Linked DNA regions of Homo sapiens. The protein of the gene in region 2 interacts with the protein of the main gene of each other region in a pairwise test. Each region holds a gene or a part of one and is shown on either strand. Other genes may lie near its edges. The genes, in order: ARG2, FOXD4L6 and PLG.

Region 1 (3,652 bases), on a different chromosome or scaffold from region 2:
GTGAAAGAGCGAGACTGTCTAAAAAAAAAAGTTTGTGTGAATATATGTTTTGAATTCTGTTAGGTATATACATAGGAATGGATTTGCTTGAGGACACAGTAACTATACATTTAACTTTGAGGATCTGCCAAACTGTTTTCCAAAGTGGCTGCAGTTTTACATTCACACCAGTAGTGTATGACAGGTCGAATCTTTTTACACCCTCACCAATACTTGGTATTGTCTATCTTTTTTATCATAGCCATCCTAGTGGGTGTGAAATGGTATTTCATTGTAGTTTTGTGGTTTTTTTTTTCCCCTGAGACAGAGTCTCACTCTGTTGCCCAGGCTGGAGTGCAGTGGTACAATCTCTGCTCACTGCAACCTCCACCTCCTAGGTTCAAGTGATTCTCCCACCTCAGCCTCCTGAGTAGCTGGGACTACAGGAGTGTGCCACCACATCCGGCTAATTTTTGTATTTTTTAGTAGAGACGGAGTTTCACCATGTTGATCAGGCTGGTTTGAACTCCTGACCTGAAATGATCTGCCCGCCTCAGCCTCCCAAAGTACTGGGATTACAGGTGTAAGCCGCCACACCCGGCCATTGTAGTTTTAAATTTGCATTTCCGTAATGACTAATGTGTTTACTGCCCATTTGTATAACTTCTTTGGAGAAGTGGCTAATTAAATCTATTGCTAATTTTTAAATTTGGTTGTCTTTTTACGGTTGTTATTTTATTTATGTTTGCCGAACACTAGAATCTTATCAGGTATATGATTTGCAAATATTTTGCCAATTCTATGGGCAGTCTTTTTACCTTTTCTCTTTTTTTTTTTTGGTTTTTCATTACATTGATGAAGTCTTTCCAGTTTCTTTTTTTTTTTTTTTTTTTTGAGATGGAGTTTTGCTCTCGTTGCCCAGGCTGGACTGCAATGGCACAATCTCGGCTCATCACAACCTCCGCCTCCCAGGTTCAAGCAATTCTCCTGCCTCAGCCTCCCGAGTAGTTGGGATTACAGGCATGCACCACCATGCCCGGCTAATTTTTTTTTGTATTTTTAGTAGAGATGGGGTTTCTCCATGTTGAGGCTGGTCTCGAACTCCTGACCTCAGGTGATCCGCCTGCCTCAGCCTCCCAAAGTGCTGGGATTACAGGCGTGAGCCACCGTGCCTGGCCCCCACTTTCTTAATAGTGCTCTTTGAAACATAGATGTATTTAATTTAGCTAAGTCAAGTTTAATTTTTGTCACTTATGATTTTGATGGGATAGCTAAGAAACCAATACCTAACCCAAGGTCGCAAAAATCCAGTCCTATGTTCTCTAACAGTTATATGGTTTCAGCATTACATTTAGGACTTTGGTCCATTTTGAGTTAATTTTCATATATGGTGTGAGATAGGGATTTTTTTTTTTTTAATGTGGATATCCAGTTATCCCAGCACCATTTACTGAAGACTATTCTTTCCTTACTGACTTGTGTTGGTCAAATAAAGACAGCCTTGTGAATGGACAATTTTAGGAAACCATCAGACCAGTCAAATGACAATTTTCTGGGGATGGTCTATGAGGAGTATCACCTCTGTTCTCCCTTTTGCAGTAACTGCCAGCCTCCTGGTTTCACTGTGATTGCAGGCTATCGGTTGTCCAGGCTACAGCTGATCTGGGAAAAGGCAGCATGGGAACAGGGCAAGTTAAAATGCCACAATTCTTAATGTTCTTACTGAGATTCAATGTTTTTCTTGAATAAATGCTCCCCAGATTGCTGCAAGCCTTTGGTTAATTTCCAGAGTTCTGAAAAAGCTGATTCTGATCATTTTTGCCAATGTTCTTGATATGGTTTGGCTCTGTGTTCCCATCCAAATCTCATGTTGAATTTTAATCCCCAATGTTGGAGGTCTGGCCTGGTGGGAGGTGATTGGATCATGGGGGTTGTTCCTAATGGTTCAGCACCATCTCCCTAGTGCTGTCTCATGATAGAGTTCTCATGAGATCCGGTTAAAAGTGTGTATCACCTCCCTCTTCGCTGTCTTCCTCCTGCTCCTGCCATATAAGACGTGCTTGCTTCCCCTTCACCTTCCGCCATGATTATAATTCTCCTGGGGCCTCCCCAGAAGCAGAAGCCTGTATGTCCTGCAGAACCATGAGTCAATTAAACCTCTTTTCTTTTTAAATTACCCAGTCTCAGGTATGTCTTTACAAAAGTACAAGAACAGACTAATACAGTTCTCATTCCTTTTTTGGAGGTCCTATGCCACCATTTTCAATGGTGTCACTATACAGTATTTTAAAACAACACAGATTTCCCATTAAAGTGCAAATTTCTGGCTTTTCTTGAAAAACTGGAGAAAAGAGTACAAGGCCCACTCCTTCTCACATGGTAACAGGTGGCTAGAATTCACAAATTACCATGGTTCTCAGAGCTAACCAAAATCGAGTGCAGATATACTGCTCCTCAGCCTTGCCAGAGCAATGCCTTTTCATTTCTCTTAGGCCCTCTTAAGCCCAGGAGTTCGGGACCAGCCTGGGCAACATAGTGAGACCCCGGCTCTACAAAAGAAAAAAAAATTATCCAGGCATACTGGCATGTGTCTGTAGTCCCAGCTACTCAAGAGGCTAAAGTGGGAGGATCGCTTGAGTCCAGGAGGTTGAGATTGCAGTAGGCTGTGACTATGCCACTGCACTCCAGCCTGAGTGACAGAGTGAGACCCTCTCTCAAAGAAAAATAAAAGGTGGCTGGGAGCAGTGGCTCACTCTTGTAATCCCAGCACTTTGGGAGGCCTAGATGGGCAGATCACCTGAGGTCAGGAGTTCGAGATCAGCCTGGCCAACATGGTGAAACCCCATCTCTACTAAAAATACAAAAATTAGTCAGGCGCAGTGGCAGGCACCTGTAATCCCAGCTACTTTGGAGGTTGAGGCAGGAGAATTGCTTGAACCCGGGAGGCGGAGGTTGCAGTGAGCCAAGATCGCATCACTGTACTCCAGCCTGGTGACAGAGCGAGACTCCGTCTCAAAAAAAAAAAAAAAAAAAAAAAAAAGGTTACCTGAGAGTACTGTTGAGTGTCCTTACTAAGCCCAAGGAAATAAAACAAGCCCAGACACTAAGTCAAATACATTCATTCGAGAGAAAACAGGAAATTTAACTCATGCTATGGTAACACCGGCAGCCTGTGACATCAGAGCAAAGGCAAGGAACAAAGGGATTGTGAAAGTTACCTTTCCATGAGTCTCTCCTTTGAAATTTGATCCATGCTGTTTATTTGAAAGTGTTCAAAACACTCAAGTTATTTTGGTACTGTTTAGGAACAGAGCAACTGAAATGTCTCTTGGTACTTTTCTCCAATATATTCCAGGAGATTAGCCAAAACCACATGCTAGAAATCTGCTGAGAGCCACAGTTTTATTTAATAGGCTATGAGATTCTATTTCAGACTGCTGGTGATACTGAGCTACCAGTCAGCTACACAGTAAGGATATAATTGTACAATTAAATATATTTGAGAAAAAAAGTCAAAGGGAAGGCCATATAAACTGAAGCCTCACCATCACTTTAGGTTGGAGTTTAAAGAGGGAGTAATATTTACAGGAGAATGGCTTCCCCTGGGTTGGAGTGGAAAAATACCAAGAGCTGTGACAGGAAAGGAAGTCTACAAAGCATGAGTAAGAGAAGC
Region 2 (3,752 bases):
CTTAATTTTAACATTAAAGATGGCACGTCAGACACACAGATAAGAAATCAATGTTCTGAAATTAATATCCTACTTACATTAAACATCCCTATCAGGAAGACACAGAGAGTAGAAGCATTTTGCACTAGACTTAGGAATAATACTTCCAGCTCCAAGGAAGTGAAGAAGGGGGAACATGTTTGGCATCGGAGGCTGTGTTTTTGTTTGCTTGCTTGTTTTTCTTTTAATGCCAGAACAAAATACCCCACTCACGTTCATAGTACCCCAGGAAATGCGCAAATCGGGACAGCCATAGAAGCCACAACCGAAGGCAAGAAAAGATGACTTGACGCCCTGCGAAGGTTACGTTCAGGTGGTTTTTAGAGGAACGTAATCCAGCTGTTTCTTTCTAACCATTTTGCAGCGAACAGAAGTTCGTGTTTGCTCTCCAGCGGGATTCAGATGCACACGCCCTGAATGGGCCGCGCAAGGTGAAGTGAGCAGCTGCGGGTCGCTCCCCACTCCCACCTGGCTCTAGGAGGGCCCTGCGGAGTTGGCCAGGGAACTGGGCGTGGGCGATACTAAAAAAACTGGTGAGGTCCCCTCTCCGCCCAAAGGGGCAGCCAGCGATGTCAGCCTAGAGCCCTCTGCCACTGCCTGATACCTCAGCAGGGCCGACGAGGCCGACAGGTGCCCGCCCAGCACCGCGCCCTTGGTGGGAGCGCAGCCGTTGGCGCAGTCCTCCTCCTGATGCTGCTGCTATTGCTGCAAAATTGTCCGAGCAGCGGCGGCGGCGGACACTTGCAGCAAAGGGGCAGCGGTCTGGGGATGCAACAGGCTTGATGGTCGCTGGAGCAGGTGGCAGTAGCTCCACGCGGTCGGGGACAAACTCTGCGCAGCCCCTGTACCCGCTCCCCTGACCCCTTGCATAATACTCTCAATGCTGAAAGAGATGCATCCGCCTCCCGGTGGCGACGCCAGACCCTTGCCCTCCTCCCAAGGCTGAGGACCAAGTGAGGGCTGCAGCACGGGAAGGGTGCCGGGGTCGCCAGGGCCGCGCCTTCTGCTTTCTTCGGTGCCCCGGCATAGACGGGGGCCGAGAGCAGTAGGTAGCGAAGAGGATGCGGGTGCAGCAGAGCGTAAGGGCGTCTCCCGGGGGCGGTGTTGGGGTAGGCCCCCGGGACTGGCTGCGGCGGGGCAGGGGCCCCAAGCAGAGGGCCTGGGTGGGGGTTGTGCAGGGCGGCGTGTGCAGCAGGTAGAGGGAAGGGGTGGGGCAGGTGGGCTCCCGGGGTCAGTTGGTGGCGCTTGAAACGCTTCCTACGCCGGAGAAAGCTGCCATTGTCGAACATGTCTTGGGAGGCGGGGTCCAGGCTCCAGTAGTTGCCCTTGCCTGGGTGGCCCGGCTCGCGGGGGATCTTAACGAAGCAGTCGTTCAGCGAGAGGTTGTGGCGGATGCTGTTCTGCCAGGCGGGGAACTTGCGGCGGTAGTAGGGGAAGCGGCCACTAATGAAGGCGCAGATGCCGCTGAGCGTGAGGCGCTTGTGCGGGTTTTGCAGGATGGCCATGGTGATGAGCGCGATGTACGAGTAGGGGGGCTTTGCCGGCTGCCGGGCATCTTCAGAGGCCGCCGCAGACCTTGGCGGTGCCCTGAACTTGGTGCCAAACTCTGAGGGGTCGCTCGGGCCGCCGCCGCCCTCGATGTGCTCTCGGGGAAGCGCAACCCCGCCCCACCGGGCCACCTGCAGCCCCGGCTGGAGCGACTGCTCTAGGAACTGCTGGCTCGCCGCCTCCTCCTCGTCTTCCACCTCGTCTTCATCTTCCTCCTCTCCCAGGACATCGATTTTACCGTCTTCCCCATCGGAGTCCCGGAGGCTGCGCTGCGGTGTGGAGCGAAGGCGCTCAGCTCTTGGCAGGTTCATGGAGGAGCAGGTGCTTCAGTCGCAGGGGATGTGGCGACCGATCACCTAGCCTGGGGCGGGCTGAGCTGGAAGCCTGGGATGAATGTTGCAAGAAGCAGGAACGCTAGTGGTTACCCTTTGGGATGTTTTCGTCTGCTTGTTTCTACTCCTTTGCAACAACGTCCGGCAAAGATGCCTTTGCCTTTTATAAAAGCTTCTTCAAGACCATGTGTGGTGGACTCCCCCCTTTATAACCCTTCTTCCCCTACCTCGGAGCGGTGCCACTTCCTCCTAACGTAGTCCAGGGATGATGGTCTTCTGGGCAAACACCCGTCCGGAGAAAAGCCCAGCCCCCTCCTCCTCGCACCCACCTGCCACCAAGGAAGATGCTCTACTCATCCGGTGCAGCCAGACAGTTGGCAAGCCTTTGCACGGGTTCTGTTAAGGCGCATTTAAACCCGCGCAAATAAAAGCGAGGTAGGAAAGTATGATACTCAACATTCTATGACCACCTCAACATGCAGCCTTCCCGCCTGGAGAAAAGAAATGGTGGGGCAGGAGGCTGAAATGTACACGGTTGTTTGTAAAGGAATGTGTAACCGTAAAAGTATGTTTTTGTGTTTCACAGCTGGTAATCACCCATTTTCATTGGTAGAGTCTGCCCTTACCCAGAATGGTGAGCTGAATTATATTTAAGGTTCTGACAATATTCCCAGGCTTCAGGGGGGTGTTGCTTTGCTCCTTCTACCTTCCTTCCCACCTCCTCAAGATGCTCTCCCTGACTCAAATTTTCAGAAAAGGCTCAAATGTCCCAGCACTAAATTGTGTAAGTTTACTCAGGGAAGGCAGGAGAGCTCACACGGAGTCCTCTGTCCCCTTGTAGCAATGGTTCTCCAATTTCTTTGAATATTTAACCACAGAAATACATTTTATATCACAATCTCACACATACAGACATAATACATAACTAAGATGGGTTTCACGAAACAATATACTTACACTATAGTGATCACTGATATTTCCTTTTAAAAAAAAATGGCCATAACCAACTAAATTGATTTCACACATACCAGTATGGGCCCAGTTTGAAAAATCCTGTTCTTACAAAGTGGCCCCACATACAAGAAATGCACCCACTCTATAAGGGCTTCTCTCTCTCCCTTTCCTCCTTCCTTTCTTCATCCTTTATAACCAATTCATTTTTAGAGACAGGGTCTATGTTGCGCAGGCTGGCTTTGAATTCCTGGGCTCAAGTGATCCTCCCGCCTCAGCCTCCTGAGTAGGTGGGACTACAGGCGTGCCACTATGCCTGGCTCTGGCTCTTCATTCTTTTTTTTTTTTTTCTTTTTTTTTTTTTGAGACGGAGTCGCTCTGTCGCCCAGGCTGGAGTGCAGTGGGGCGATCTCAGCTCACTGCAAGCTCCGCCTCCTGGGTTCACGCCATTCTCCTGCCTCAGCCTCCCAAGTAGATGGGACTACAGGCGCTCGCCACCACGCCTGGCTAATATTTTTAGTAGAGACGGGGTTTCACCGTGTTAGCCAGGATGGTCTCGATGTCCTGACCTCATGATCCGCTTGCCTCAGCCTCCTAAAGTGCTGGGATTACCGGCGTGAGCCGCCATGCCCAGCCTCTTCATTCTTTCAGAAATGTCAACATTAAGTGCTTTTACTGTAATAAAACTTGGGACTTCAATGAGGCAAGAAGGGGCTGCAGTGTTGCCTTTAAATCAGTGGGTCCTCATTCACTATCTGCACTGGGGAGGGGCAATATGACAGCACAACTGTTCATCTCACTCCCTCCACATCCTTAGAAGTAACACGATTTTTAGATTGGCTTCATGAAAATTAGCTCAGAGACTAAAGTAGCACTACAGAG
Region 3 (3,652 bases), on a different chromosome or scaffold from region 2:
GTATTAAGACTGTTAATAGTAACAATTTAGCTCTCCAAACATTCTGCATCCCAGGTGTTAAAGAGGACTGGAAACACCTTAGTTCTTGTATTCTTGAGGATGATTTGCCATATTGTGTCTAGTATTACGGCAAAACTCTAAGTAGCATTTTAAATAGTATTTATTTGGGTTGGAATTATTTCTATGCATTGACTCATCTTCCTGGGTTTCATTAGCTGTACGCATTGTACTTCCTTCCTTACCACTATTTATCTCGAATTCTTGAGATTAAAGTGCAGATTAAATCTAAACTTTATCTGGTGAAGTTATTAGTTCTTACAAGTAGCAAGCAAACGGTAAACTAAATAGGATCACCTAATTGTACCAGATTTTAAAAAAAAAAAACCCTGATTCTCCTGATTCTCTCTACAAAATGCTAACATTTAAATATGTCATTTGTAAATTGTTAACCAGAAGGAACATGGGAATGACTGTAGGTTGAGTTTGAAGTCTGAAGTTTGAAGGCTTAGTTTGCTTGTTTTCAAAGTGACAGAAGGGAGCAAAAGGTTATATAAACTCTGATGGGTACATACAAAAAAAAAAGAAGTGAAAAGTCAAAAGTCAGTCATTTTTTGGTCCTTGTTTCTTTGCTGTGGGATATTGACCTGCTACTAACTTACCTGCCAGGGTTTTGCCAGGAACAGTCAGTGTTAGATCACATTTACTTCTGCCACTTGCCACCAGCCACACTGCCTTCACCAAGTCCAAGACCCTATCACCACTGGTTGGGGCTACTTGTAGCTGTACACATGATCTCTAAGAAATGTAACTTCCCTGTTTAAAGCCCTTCCTAGTGCCCTTAAAATAAGACCCAAAGACTTCCCAAATGTGCTAGGGCCCAGCATTATTTAAGTAACCCCCAGCTGCTGTTTGCTTGGCTTGCTAAACTTTTCTACACTGGCCTTACTTCTGTTCCTTCACCACCCCAAGCACACACCCTCCTGCCTGGGACCCTCTTCACCTTTGTCCTGCTGTGCCAGCTCCTTCTTATCTCCTAGGTGTCAGCTCAATCATCATGTCCTTTGCAAATCTTCCTTGACCCCTAGACCTCCCTTTCACAAAGTACCTTGAGTTTACACTTTTGATGAGTGTCTTATGTCTACTGTAATACTATGTCCCAATGAAGATGTACTTGCAATCATAATACGCAGTATTGGGTTAAAAGCATTAGTTTGCTGTAGGTATGTTAGGAGCACTTTCCCCATGTGATTGATCAATTAATTAAAAAATGGCTAAAGTGGGTAACCTTAAATGATGGTGTAAATATACCTTAAACATTTTATATTTTCATTGAAAACACAAGTGTACTTGACACCTTTTGACGTAGAGCAGAGGCTTTTCTTCTTCGAATATGGGGTCACCAGTAGAAGGTCTCTGGTGTATTTCCTGCATAAACTATGCTCCAGTGCAACATCTACAATAATTACTTTCCTTATTTTTGAAGTGGACCATATCTCGACATTTATTAATCAATCTGAATGTGTAAAACCTTTAGATTTTTATGAATTCCTCCTCAAGCTTTATAGTCAACTATATGAGTGGATTGCCCTCTGTGGATTTGATAGCAATTTTTTAAATGATTCATGTTTCAACTTGTTAAAAACATTTAATTTAGTTAAAAACCAAACAAAAAAGAGCTTTGTTTCTTTTCACATTCATTTCTCAGTTTAGATCATCTTTAATTAAATATAAATGTAAGAAAGTTGGAAAATGCAAAGAAATGACTCGTTGTAAGCACATAACTCACGTGGGGGGAACAGACATGGGTGGGCACACTAGCAAACACCTGCCAGCTGCATGTGGACCCAGGTGGGCACCGGACTGTTTTAAACACAGGAGAGGGCCCGTTGTCTAACTGGTGAGTTGGTTGAGTGGAAGCTGGTTGAGAACTTTTACTGCAAACCATTTACAGTAGACCACAATTTTATAGCCCTGTTTGGCACTTTTTCATATCACTGGGAGCCTGAAGAAATAGAAGTGGGTTGGATCTCTTTCAGCCTCTGAAAAGCCTGCCATTCCCCCATCTAAAAAGCCCTTTCCCCATTCTCTCACTCTGTCTCATCATGTATGTAATATGTATCATCATTAAGTGATCTCATTTTATATTGTTTCCTTGAATATTTCCTGTAACCCCCCTGCCTGATTCCACTAGAATGTAAGCTCCATGACGGCCAAGCCTCTGGCTGCACTGTGCCCCGTGTGTCCCCAGCATCCTGGTGGGGCTCGATACACAGAGAGCTCATAAGTAGCATTTGAATACATGAATCAAAGAATGGCTCAGTTTACTGCAGCCTTTTTGCAGATGCAAAAGATGATCTTTTAGAAAGCAGAAACAGGGGGTCTGGTGCATGAGATCTTTTTCTCAACGTGACTATGCTGTGCAGACCTTCATGTGGTGTCTTGTGAAAGACTTTGACCACTGTGTGGACTTCCCTTCAGTGTATCTCTCAGAGTGCAAGACTGGGAATGGAAAGAACTACAGAGGGACGATGTCCAAAACAAAAAATGGCATCACCTGTCAAAAATGGAGTTCCACTTCTCCCCACAGACCTAGGTAAGACATTCCCTTTCATCTTTGTGTTCATCTACTGTAAAGTTGTCCCTCTGTGTCTGTGAGGGATTGGTTCCAGGACCCCTGTGGCTACCAAAATCCATGCTTCTCAAGTCCCTTATATAAAATGGTGCAGTATTTGCATATAACCTACATACCTTCTCTTGTATAATCCCTAATATAATGTAAATGCTATTTAATCGTTGTTATACTGTATTGTTTTTATTTGTATTATGTTTTATTGTCATATTGTTATTTTCTGTCATCTTTTTCAAGTCTTTTCCATCCACAGTTGGTTGAATTTGTGGATCTGGAACCCATGGATACAGAGGGCCAACTGTATTTAGGATAATTTCATCACTTTTAATTCAAACCACAATATGTGAATAAGCAGATAGAAAGAATCTTTTTGATGTCGATGTTCAACTATTTTTGGCACCATAGTAGAACATGGTTGCTTTCTATTTTTTCTTGGATATGGAGGTTTCTTGAAGACCTAGAACATAGAAGAATGCCTAGTTTAAAAAAAATCAATGAAACTATGAGTTTTAGGCCAAATCTGAGAAAAGATCAAAGATGACTATGTTTGGGACTGAAGTAAGCATATCAGGTTAGAACTCTCATCACATGTTCGACTCAAATTGTGGAGCAAAAGAGTAAATAAGATATAAAAATGAAAATGAAGATACGTGAAATTCAAATGTTGCAACTTGCCTATTATTTATTTTAGTGCATTTTTTTGTACTTTTCCCAGTTTGGTGTTAGGTGGCATTAAGTTCTCAGTAATGACGCTTATCAAATAGGAACTTAGTGCTTGTTACTCACCTTTATCCATTCCCCCAACACTCAACAAATTGCCTTTGCTATATCCCTATGAGATGAGCAGATCAAATATTCCCCGTGAGTTAATGAAAACTGATTCAACCAAATGGCAAAGTCAGAGACTATCGGGGGCCATGGAGACACTCTGGGCCATTTTTATGAGGTAGTCTAGGCTCATCTTTATGAGGGAACTGAGGTCTCGGGGGGTGGGGGTTATCCCAAATAGGTTCACAGAAGAAC

The links.
Region 1: the proteins of FOXD4L6 (region 2) and ARG2 interact in binary tests that used the Homo sapiens proteins (3 or more experiments, as listed by UniProt).
Region 3: the proteins of FOXD4L6 (region 2) and PLG interact in binary tests that used the Homo sapiens proteins (3 or more experiments, as listed by UniProt).

Annotation. Positions count from the first base shown.
Region 1 is NC_000014.9:67,622,902-67,626,553, reverse strand, and holds part of ARG2 (arginase-2, mitochondrial precursor), read right to left. Parts: intron 688-3,652; exon of another isoform or gene 1-687. UniProt on the Homo sapiens protein: May play a role in the regulation of extra-urea cycle arginine metabolism and also in down-regulation of nitric oxide synthesis. Extrahepatic arginase functions to regulate L-arginine bioavailability to nitric oxid synthase (NOS).
Region 2 is NC_000009.12:41,126,486-41,130,237, forward strand, and holds the start of FOXD4L6 (forkhead box protein D4-like 6), read right to left. Parts: upstream 2,197-3,752; 5' UTR 1,899-2,196; coding exon 645-1,898; 3' UTR 1-644.
Region 3 is NC_000006.12:160,708,599-160,712,250, forward strand, and holds part of PLG (plasminogen isoform 1 precursor), read left to right. Parts: intron 1-2,478; coding exon 2,479-2,593; coding exon of another isoform or gene 2,594-2,597; exon of another isoform or gene 2,598-3,274; intron 3,275-3,652. UniProt on the Homo sapiens protein: Plasmin dissolves the fibrin of blood clots and acts as a proteolytic factor in a variety of other processes including embryonic development, tissue remodeling, tumor invasion, and inflammation. In ovulation, weakens the walls of the Graafian follicle.